Linked DNA regions of Homo sapiens: region 1 is linked to region 2. Evidence: fine-mapped expression QTL. A gene starts in region 2. The other region holds a variant in brackets. All regions are shown on one strand. Distances are from middle to middle. Region 1 overlaps IPCEF1 (interaction protein for cytohesin exchange factors 1). Region 2 holds the start of IPCEF1 (interaction protein for cytohesin exchange factors 1).

The links. PIP is the estimated chance that this variant, and not a neighbour inherited with it, causes the effect.
Region 1: its variant is the best candidate, but not a certain one, in a credible set for the expression of IPCEF1 in whole blood (INTERVAL, PIP 0.61).

What each region holds. Positions count from the first base shown.
Region 1 is chr6:154,237,039-154,242,263 of GRCh38, forward strand. The region is part of intron 5 of IPCEF1 (interaction protein for cytohesin exchange factors 1); the gene reads right to left. It also overlaps a transcript of OPRM1 not described here. Among named protein-coding and RNA genes, the nearest start is that of IPCEF1, 120 kb to the right of the region's middle. RefSeq lists a silencer at 2,424-2,624. The variant A/C (reference allele first, on the strand shown) is at 2,345.
Region 2 is chr6:154,354,494-154,359,718 of GRCh38, forward strand. IPCEF1 (interaction protein for cytohesin exchange factors 1) reads right to left here and starts at 2,310. Exons shown (of 12, transcript NM_001130700.2): 1 at 2,179-2,310.

The sequences.
Region 1 (5,225 bases), 120 kb before region 2:
ATGGAAGATTAAACACAGCAGCACAGTGACAGATGAGTCTATCAATTAGCTTGTCTGTAGAAGAAGCAGCTGGAACCTGACCCTTAAAAGAGCTTGCTCCAGACAGATGATAAATCTTCAAATAAAGACTTCTCAGGAAAATCCTCAAACCTAATGAAAAGTTCAGCTCATCCCATGGGCCACTTGGCATTCTGTTGCTTGGGAAATGTGCCCACACCCTCACCATTAACTCATGTGTTAACTGAACTCTTCCTCCAGGGTGGAAAACGCTGTATTGACAAGTACCCAATGTCTTCTAGTCCATTCCCATCTTGTAGCTTAAAATCATCCTTTACACGGGGTCGGTAGGTGTATTTTTGGACTTTCTTACACAGGACAGATCATAGTCACTGAGAAAAACCATTCCTGGTATCTGAAAATTCCTAGCACAATTCTCCTGCATCCTAAAATCTCAATATTTAGGCAAACACATTGCTTTTGTTTGTATACATTCCTTTGATTTTTTAAATATTGCTTTTAGCTGCACTCAATCTTCTCAAAGTAGCTTTGAATAATATAGAGATAGTGTTCTTGGTCAACATTTACTTGCAAGAAAATAGACGCATAGACATTTGCATCACTGACTTAGAGCTACAAGACCTCATAATAAAGTACAGGATTAGAATCCAGGTGCCATTTGTCCCTTATACCATGCTGCCGAAATCCACCTTACTGCTGGCTTGCTTCAAGAATGATGAAATTATATACACACACATATACATATGTATGTTTATACACATGCATATCTATATATATGTTAATATTTATACACATACATATCTATATATGTGTCAATACTTATACATTTATGCACTATAAATATCAATTCAATATATATCAATTTATTTTTAAGTTAGTGTGTGTGCACTTATGTACTCTATTTCCTGTTAACGATTTTAAACGATTTTAGGATAAAAGCCATTTTTGATTTTAGATTCTATGCATTGGCAAATCAACTATCATATATGCATATATAATTCTTACAGCCATCAGAAATGATGTTGTGGATATACATGTATCAACATGGAAATATGTTTCTATGTATTACTTAGTGAGACAATCAAGTGACAACAGCATCATGTATGATATTATTTTATTTTTGTAAAACATAGAAACAAATGCTTGGAAACACATACAACAAAATGTCTAAACTCGTGCCATGGTGGTAGGAACCTTTATTTATTTATTTATTTTTTAGATGGAGTTTCACTCTTGTTGCCCAGGCTAGAGTGCAATGGCGCTGTCTCGGCTCACTGCAACCTCTGCCTCCCAGGTTCAAGCGATTCTCCTGCCTCACTCTCCCAAGTAGCTGGAATTACAGGCATGCACCACCATACTGGGCTAATTTTGTATATATATATATATTTTAATACAGACAGGGTTTCTCCATGTTGGTCAGGCTGGTCTCAAACTCCCGACCTCAGGTGATCTGCCTGTCTTGGCCTTCCAAAGTGCTGGGATCATAGGCATGAGCCACTACACCCGGCCAAGCCTGTATGATCTTAATTCATTTATTTCTCTCTGTGTGTTTGCTTCCATGTCTGTCTTCTTTTTTTATTTCGCTTACTTCTATTTTCAAATTTTTCCTATGAGCACATACTACTGTATAACCTTTTTTATAATTTTTATTTTTATTTTTAGCTGTTTTTTAAGAGATGGGGTCTCACCATGTTGACCAAACTGGTCTCAAACTCCTGGCCTCAAGTGATCCTCCCATCTCAGCTTCCCAAAGTGCTGGGATTACAGGCGTGAGCCACCATGCCTGGCCCTATTGTATAATCTTTTAAAGCATTTTTCAGTTACTTTAAATTTCCAAAAAGTAAAAAGTTGGATTCTATATTGTTGTTTTTTTTAAAAAAAAAAAGAAGTTGTGGAAACACCGACAAAAGTACTATGCACTGTCCACCAGAGAAAAGAAGGAAGCTGTATCCCCTGAGTGGGCATTTCACTGCTGTGAGCTAAGAAGACTGTCCTCTAAAATACCTCAGCCATGGCATTCACTCTGGCAATGCCCAAGCATATCACTGCCTTCTGAGAACAAGACAAAAGAAACCAACATTTCCTGGCTCTCGGTGTTCCACAGTTAATTTTGAAAAGTTTGGAAAGAATTTAAAGGAAAATAATATTGGCAACATGAGCAATTGTTCCCACATTACAACAAGAAGTTATTGAGAACTGCCCATCCCAACTACAGATAATGTGGCCATAAAGCTATGACAGGGGAACCATTATTTTAGAAATACATTCAAGGATCTGCAAAGGAAAATAATTGTTAGAACACAATAATACATTATAGACAATAAAT[A/C]AACTAAATGTCCATTTAAAAATTCATTTCCACACATGTGAAATTAGAATGTCAGAAGTAACAGAATTCAAGAAAGTCCTCAATCATTCTAACATTTAGGTTTCCAAATGTTAACTAAGCAAGCATTTTTACCCCTTTGATCCATGAGTCATTGTCTTGCGGTAAACCGGTCACCTACAGCTGCTGAAATGTCACGTTTTGCCCTGTCCAGACATGTCAACATTCCACCTTCTCATTCTCCTTTCTAATGCAAATTCTAGGAACCCATATGTTGGCCAAAAGTTCATCAATTTCACATGGTTAGTTTGAATTGTCTTCACTGAAGAAACTTTTTTTTTTGAGACGCAGTCTCGCTCTGTCACCCAGGCTGGAGTGCAGTGATGTGATCTCGGCTAACTGCAACCTCCGCCTCCCATGTTCAAGCAATTCTCTTGCCTCAGTCTCCCAAGTAGGTGGGACTACAGGCATATCCACCACGCTTGGCTAATTTTTATATTTTTAGTAGAGGGGGGTTTCACCATGTTGGCCAGGCTGATCTTGAACTCCTGACCTTCAGTGATCTGCCCACCTCAGCCACCCAAAGTGCTGGGACTACAGGCGTGAGCCACAGCACCCAACCTTGAAGAAACATTTCAAAACATTGGAATTTTGTTTGGGATACGCTCAGAGGCTGGTTCTTGGCTAAGACAATAAATATAGAGTTCAAATAAATTAAAAGCCCATAATTCTCATTTTGGTAGAAGTCTGGGAACACATCAGTGTTCAATAATAATGCTCAATTTAATTAGTTAATTCATACAACTAATTGATAATTAAGTAATGTAATAATTAAGCAATTCCTTCAAAAAATACTGGTACATGCTCTGTACCTGCCAACTTCTAGGATACAGAAACACAGTTTAAATCAGACAAGTAAAGAATACGTCCTCTGCTGCTTATGTTGTAGCTGGGGGAGAAAGAATATAATAAGCTATGACTAATGTATTCATAAATTCCTATAAAATTTTTTTGAATCTATTGTAAACTCACTCAGACATTTTCCAAAATGTATGCTAATCTATGCCTACTGATGAAAGGTTCAGAAGACTTAATGTCACTTTCCCAGGGAAAATTAATCTGTTCTTTATTTTTCTTGAGCTGAAAAAAAAAAAGGTACTCTATATTTACTGAAACTTGCAGAATAGCTGTCTCATGAAAAGAGAAAATTTTGACTTTCAAGTAACATTTTCTACATGGGTAATTCTGCCCAATGTAAAAAGTGATTAGATCTTCACTATAGAGATTCTCATAAAACTGATTTCAAGAAATATGCCTTCCAAAGATAAGAGCCTCTGAAATTCACATGAAGTGTGCATGCAGCTAGAGATGGAACACATCTCATGCAGACAGTTACTTCAATCCCCAAACATGCAAAACTTTCACAATTCAGAAAGCAAAGGAGAAACACAATCACAATTGTACAGACATATTGGGGCCTCAAAGAACATTAAAGTCTCTGTAATATATACAAAACCAGATATTAACCTACAAACCTCTTCAGTTTGTCTAAAGTTTTTATGAAATAGATAGTTGGGGCCAGGTGCGGTGGCTCATGCCTGTAATCCCAGCACTTTGGGAGACTGAGGCGGGCAAATCATGAGGTCAAGAGATCGAGACCATCCTGGCCAACATGGTGAAACCCCGTCTCTACTAAAAATACAAAACTTAGCTGGGCGTGGTGGTGCACGCCTGTAATCCCAGCTACTCAGGAGGCTGAGGCAGGAGAATCGCTTGAACCCGGGAGGCGGAGGTTGCAGTGAGCCGAGATCGCGCCACTGCACTTCAGCCTAGCAACAAAGTGAGACTCCATCTCAAAAAAAAAAAAAAAAAAAAGAGAGAGAGAGAAACAGATAGTTGGATGATTCATTTTTTCTAGTCAAGGCTCAGGGGCCTCAAGCTTCCTTGAACTGGTGATGCAATGGCACACATGGTGTCAATAAATGAAAACTAAAAAACACAAGTATCTAATAATTTTATACAAAGAAACAATGTACAAAACTAAAATACACCAAAAAAGTAAGCGACGGTGAATCTAAATGAAATTCCACCCTTCTTACTCACAAACTCTTTGTCCCTCAATTTTCATATTATTTTCCCAGTCTCCCCAGGCTCTAAAACTTGGAATCATGCTTATTTTAGCCTCAAATTTTTTGTGTCTTATATCCAAGCGTTCTTCATACCTCACCCCTTTTTATTTGCGTAGTGCGCCCTACATTCTCACTGTTGGCACTCTAGTCCAGGAGCTCATGTCTGAACGCCTGCATTTTCTCACCATCTCCTAACTGGCCTTCTGGCAGCTCCCTCACTCTCCAAAACATCCAATCTATTGCTGCTAGGTTCATATTTTTCGCATGCCAATTTCACGAGCTCACCTTCCGGCTCAAGAATAGGCAGTGGCTCCCTACTGCCTGCTGGATCAAACCCACATTCCTACACTATCACTACATGTCTCAGTCCCCCATTCACTGGCCCTAAGTCACCTCTAAATGGAGAAGCTATGCAGCCTGGGGAAAAGAGCCTGGCTTTGTCGTTGGGAAACCTTTGTTTTAAATCCCAGTTCTGCTATTTACTCCTTATGAGACTTTGAGCAAGTTACTTAAATTCCCTGAGCTTCAGTAAACTCCCTTGAAAAATGGGAATAATAAAATCTATCTTGCTCGGCTATTATGAGAATTCAATATAATCGCTAACACAGTGGGTTGGCACAGCTCGTTTATATTTTCATTCCTTTGTTCCCATTAGTCCCCAGAATGCGCATCTCCCACCTCTACTTCTCAAAGATCCTAATAATGTGTTAGCAAAATGAGAGCAGCTGTGCAGGACCTAATCGGAACCTTGGGGC
Region 2 (5,225 bases):
TCACTTCCACCATCACCTCTACCACTCCAATCACCATTTCTACCATCTCCATTACCACCTCCACCATCGCCTCCACAACCACCTCTACCATCTCCACCGTCACTTCCACCATCACCTCCCCTACGACCACCACTTCCAACACCACCCCCTTTATCTCCACCTCCACCTCCACCACCATGTATCGCCAACCCTTTCACTTTACTGACCTGGGGATTTTTCTGATCCCCGTTCTACACACCCTTTCTTTACTCCACACCTTCATATTCTCCTCTCCTCCTCCACTCTGATCTTTTCTAACATTCACTTTTTAAAGTGCCTGAGTAACAGAGATAAAGCAATGGCTTTCCTACCACATTCATTTTATGAATTATGCCAGTTATTCATTCATTCAACAAATATTTACTGAGAGCAGGCACTGTTCTGAGCACTTGGGAGCACAAGTAACTCCTCCATTTGCAGGATTCTCTTTAAGGCTAAAAAGCTTATTTTTTAGGATTTTTCTTCACACACACACACACACACACACACACACACACACACACACACACACACCATTTGCCACATTAGACCTACTTGCAAATTGTTAACCTGTACTGCAATTATCAGCTCACACTGCAGAGCCTCCAAGCTGGATGGAAAGCAGAAGTGAGCTGTTCAAAAGGATGCACGAGTCAAAAGGAAAGTCTCAGGCAATAGTGATGAAGTAATTTCTTATCTCTTATTGCCACAGCAAACTACCGCAGGAAAGAACTTCCTATTTCCATACTCTGATGATGTATATTTGCTTAACACAGCTTGCCTGAAATAGTTCATACATGGACCCACTCCAGAAAAGACACTTGATTTATAAAAAGAGGAATGGAAGGAAATTATAAGGTAAATTAAAGAATGAGTTCATCAACACATACACAAACTTACACCCTTTTCTTCCTTGCTTGCATGATGTGAGCAGAAAGAAATGTGTGTTCTTTCCATTTCTGTTTCTTTTCTTTCTTTCTTTCTTTTTTTTTTTTGAGATGAACTCTTGCTCTGTCACCCAGGCTGAAGTGCAGTGGCGCAATCTCAGCTCACTGCAACCTCCGCTTCCCGGGTTCAAGCAATTCTCCTGCCTCAGCTTCCCAGGTAGCTGGGATTACAGGTGCATGCTCCCACGCCCAGTTAATTTTTGTATTTTTAGTAGAGACGGGGTTTCATCATGTTGGCCAGGCTGGTCTCGAACTCCTGACCTCAGATGATCCACCCGCCTTGGGCTCCCAAAGTGCTGGGATTACAAGCGTGAGCCACCGCACCCGGCATTCTATTTTCTATTTTCTTTTCTTTCTTTTTTTTTTTCTTCCTGTAGAGATGAGGTCTCATTATTTTGCCCCCAGGCTGGTCTCAAACTCCTGACCTCAAGTGATCCTCTCGCCGTGGTCACCCAAAGTACTGGGATTACAGGTGTGAGCCATTGTGCCCAGCCCTCGGTTTCAATTTTCTACATAAAATAAATAACTCGATAGAAATTAGACTTTATCAAGGACAGCACTAGGAACACATAGGCCACTCAAGACTAATAGAGCCCACTGCTGTAGTCAAAGATGCTTCAGTGGGTTATAATTCTGACTTCTATAATTAAATACTTTCACATATACCCCAGCAAAGAAAAATCAAGTGCCCCAGACACCCTTACTAAAAGACTCTGAACCAACAACACCTAGCTTTCATTTTTATACCAGAGATATTTTGGCAAGCCTGAGACCTTTATCAAAGTGTAAAATGTCCCCCAGCTGCCTCCATGCAAAGGAAGCTCCCTTGCAAAGAACACACTTTCTCGAAAGAGGGCGGCCCCAGAGTGCTTCCCCAAATGAACTCCTCAGGACCCAAATACATGCTGAATTGTGCTTTTCTAAATCAAACCTGTGGTCTGCAGTCTAAACACCTATCAAGACAACACCCATTTAAGAAACATAAAAGCAGAGTGAGTACACAACTCTCTCCTCTTTCAAAGCTTTCACAGAATTAAAGAATCTTTAGCACCTGGCTTCCCAGATTACAGAGAGCTGAGTGAATATTACATCCCCAAAGTCATATTTCCTACCTCACTACTCTAAGGAGAGTGCTAGGGTATCCATTGCTTTGCCATCTTGATCTGTCAAGCAGTTACCTCTCATACATCAGCCAAGAAGTGACGTTACTTACATGCAATACAAAGAGAGTAAATCCAAGAGCAGTCTTATTCCTGGATTCAGAAGCCTCATAGTACTCTGAGGCCAAGCTTGAGGATTCTACTTAAAGCAGCCTCAGCTCTGGAAACTCAGTCAACCCAGAACTAACATTCAAAGCTGATCAGAGAGTAAAGCTCTTTCGAAAGAAGAGGAAGTATCATCTCCACTTCCTCAATCCTAACGTTCTTCCTTCTCATTGTTATGAAACCCTTCCTTGATGCCCATATCCAGGACACAGTACATGTAAGGCAAGCACACCCCATCTGCCTGAGTTCATTGATCACTAAGCACTGCCCAGTGTATTCATTTGCCGAGCACATTGGTGGAACAGTTCATGGTTCTGCTTTCCTGTTTTGGAGGCAAGGATGTTCATTTACAGGCATGGAGGGTGAGATGATCTGCAGAGTCATTCTCAGCATTTTTGGGTGAAATGCCACTTCAACCTCTTTAGGTTCAATCTTCTTTCAGATTTCCCTCTTTCCTCCTTTCCTAATCGTTCATAATGCTCTAATAAAGAGAGGGTACAGACACATTTGTAAAACGTATTTTAGGATAAAAATAAGTCTTAGCCTGCCATCTTTTGCAGTAGACATAGAAGAGTCTCTAACCACAAAACTTTTCTTTCCCACATTGGAAAAGGAAAATGGCAGGCTGAAAGTCAGAGATATTCCATCTCATTACAAATTCCTGCCCTCCCAATCTCCCTTTCAACACCAGCTTCTTGTTTCTCTATACCTTCTAGGGAAATGAATACAGCTGGGCGTGGTGGCAGATGCCTGTAATCCCAACCACTCAGGAGGCTGAGGCAGGAGAATTGCTTGAACCTGGGAGGCAGAGGTTGCAGTGAGCCGAGATCGCACCACTGAACTCCAGACTAGGAGACAGAGCAAGACTCCAACTCAAAATAAATAAATAAATAAATATGTATGTGTATATATATATATAATATATATATATAATATATATATTATATATATATTATATATATATTATATATAATATATATATTATATATATATTATATATATAATATATATATTATATATATTATATATATATAATATATAAAATATATATATTATATATATAAAATATATATAATATATATAATATATATATAAAATATATATAATATATATAATATATATATAAAATATATATATAAAATATATATATATATAAAATATATATATATAATATATATATAAAATATATATATATAATATATATATAAAATATATATATATAATATATATATAAAATATATATATATATATATATATATATATATAGAATATATAGAATATATAGAAACCTAATCCCCAATGTGATTGTATTTAGAGGTGGACCTTTGGGGAGTGATTAGGTCATGAGGACAGTGCCCTCATGAATGGTATTAATTTTCTTATTAAAGAGAACCTGGAGATCTGCCCACCCCTCCACCATATGAGGACATGGCCAGAAGACAGTCACCTAGGAACGAGGAAGCAGGTCCTCACCAGACAATGAATCTGCTGGCGCCTTGATCTTGGATGTCCAGCCTCCAGAACTGTGAGAAATAAATGTCTTTTGTTTGTAAGCCACCCAGGCTACGGTGTTTTGATATAACAGCCTGAATGACTAAGACAAAGATAAAATGTAAACTAAATCTGTGGAGGAGTGAAAAAATGAAAGAAGATGCTGTACATTTTGAGCAGGAACAAAATGAAGGTTCTCTCAGCGGCTTCTTGTTTGTGTACACTTCTATTTCTGGAAGTGCTGCCTCATCTTCTCCCTATATTGAGTTGTCTTCTAGTTCCCTGCTTTACGTAGAAAAAAAAATGGTACTAGGTGATATTAAAGGAATTTAGTGGTATCAACAGCATGGCCTGGCTTCTCACCAGACATTTAGATGCCATCATCAAAGATATCCTCAAAAGACATGTTATTTACCTTTATGGGGCCAGAATAGAGCCACTTAAATTCTTTGAGCAAAGATGATTTGTAGAATTAGAATAATCCTCAAAACGGCCGGACTGTCAGTTCAAGATGACGGGCTGACCACAGATTTGCTCCCTCCCTCCCCAAAGACTCCGTTAAAATGAGAAAAGTATAAAAAGTTTATAGGGCCGGGCACGGTGGCTCACACCTGTAATCCCAACACTTTGGGAGCCCCAGGCTGGCAGATCATGAGGTCAGGAGATCGAGACCATCCTGGCTAACATGGTGAAACCTGTCTCTACTAAAAATACAAAAAATTAGCCACGCCTGGTGGCACGAGCCTGTAATCCCAGCTTCTCAGAAGGCTGAGGCAGGAGAATCGTTTGAACCTGGGAGGCGGAGGTTGCAGTGACCTGAGATCGCGCCACTGCACTCCAGCCTGGGTGACAGAGCGAGATTCCGTCTCAAAAGAAAAAAAAAGATATAAACCCACAATAACCCAAAAAAGGAGGAAAAGCATCAGAACTTGGGAGAGCACAACAGATTTCTGGCAGCCTGAAAGCCGATGGAGGAGCAATAACAGATGGAGGCAGGCAGGGGAACCACAATATCTCATTAGTTAGGAGAACACGGCGTTGGAGGAAATTGCCCGTGTGCGGTGCTGAATCCCTGAGAGGACCGGAACTCAAGCCAAAAGAAGCTAAGAGAGCTAAATGAGTGATAGGGTGACAGGACTGAAAACAGGAAGAGTAATTCAAAGTCTGTAAGAACTCAGCCCCTCCCATACCCCTCTTTCAAATCTCTCTGTCCGCCCAGCCTCTGCACAGCAAACACACACAATTCCAACCCCGGGCAGCATACCGAGGATTCGTCTCTACACATAGTGAAATCATGCAGAGAATACAGGCATTGTATGTGGATATGAGCACTCCACAGTCAGAACTCCACATTCTGGCAATAAGAGCCTCATCTAGCATGTGCTGGATGATGGATGATGTGCTTTTTTTTTTTTTTTTTTTTTTGAGACAGAGTCTTGCTCTGTCACCCAGGCTGGAGTGCAGTGGCATTAATTATCTCGGCTCACTGCAACCTCCGCCTCCA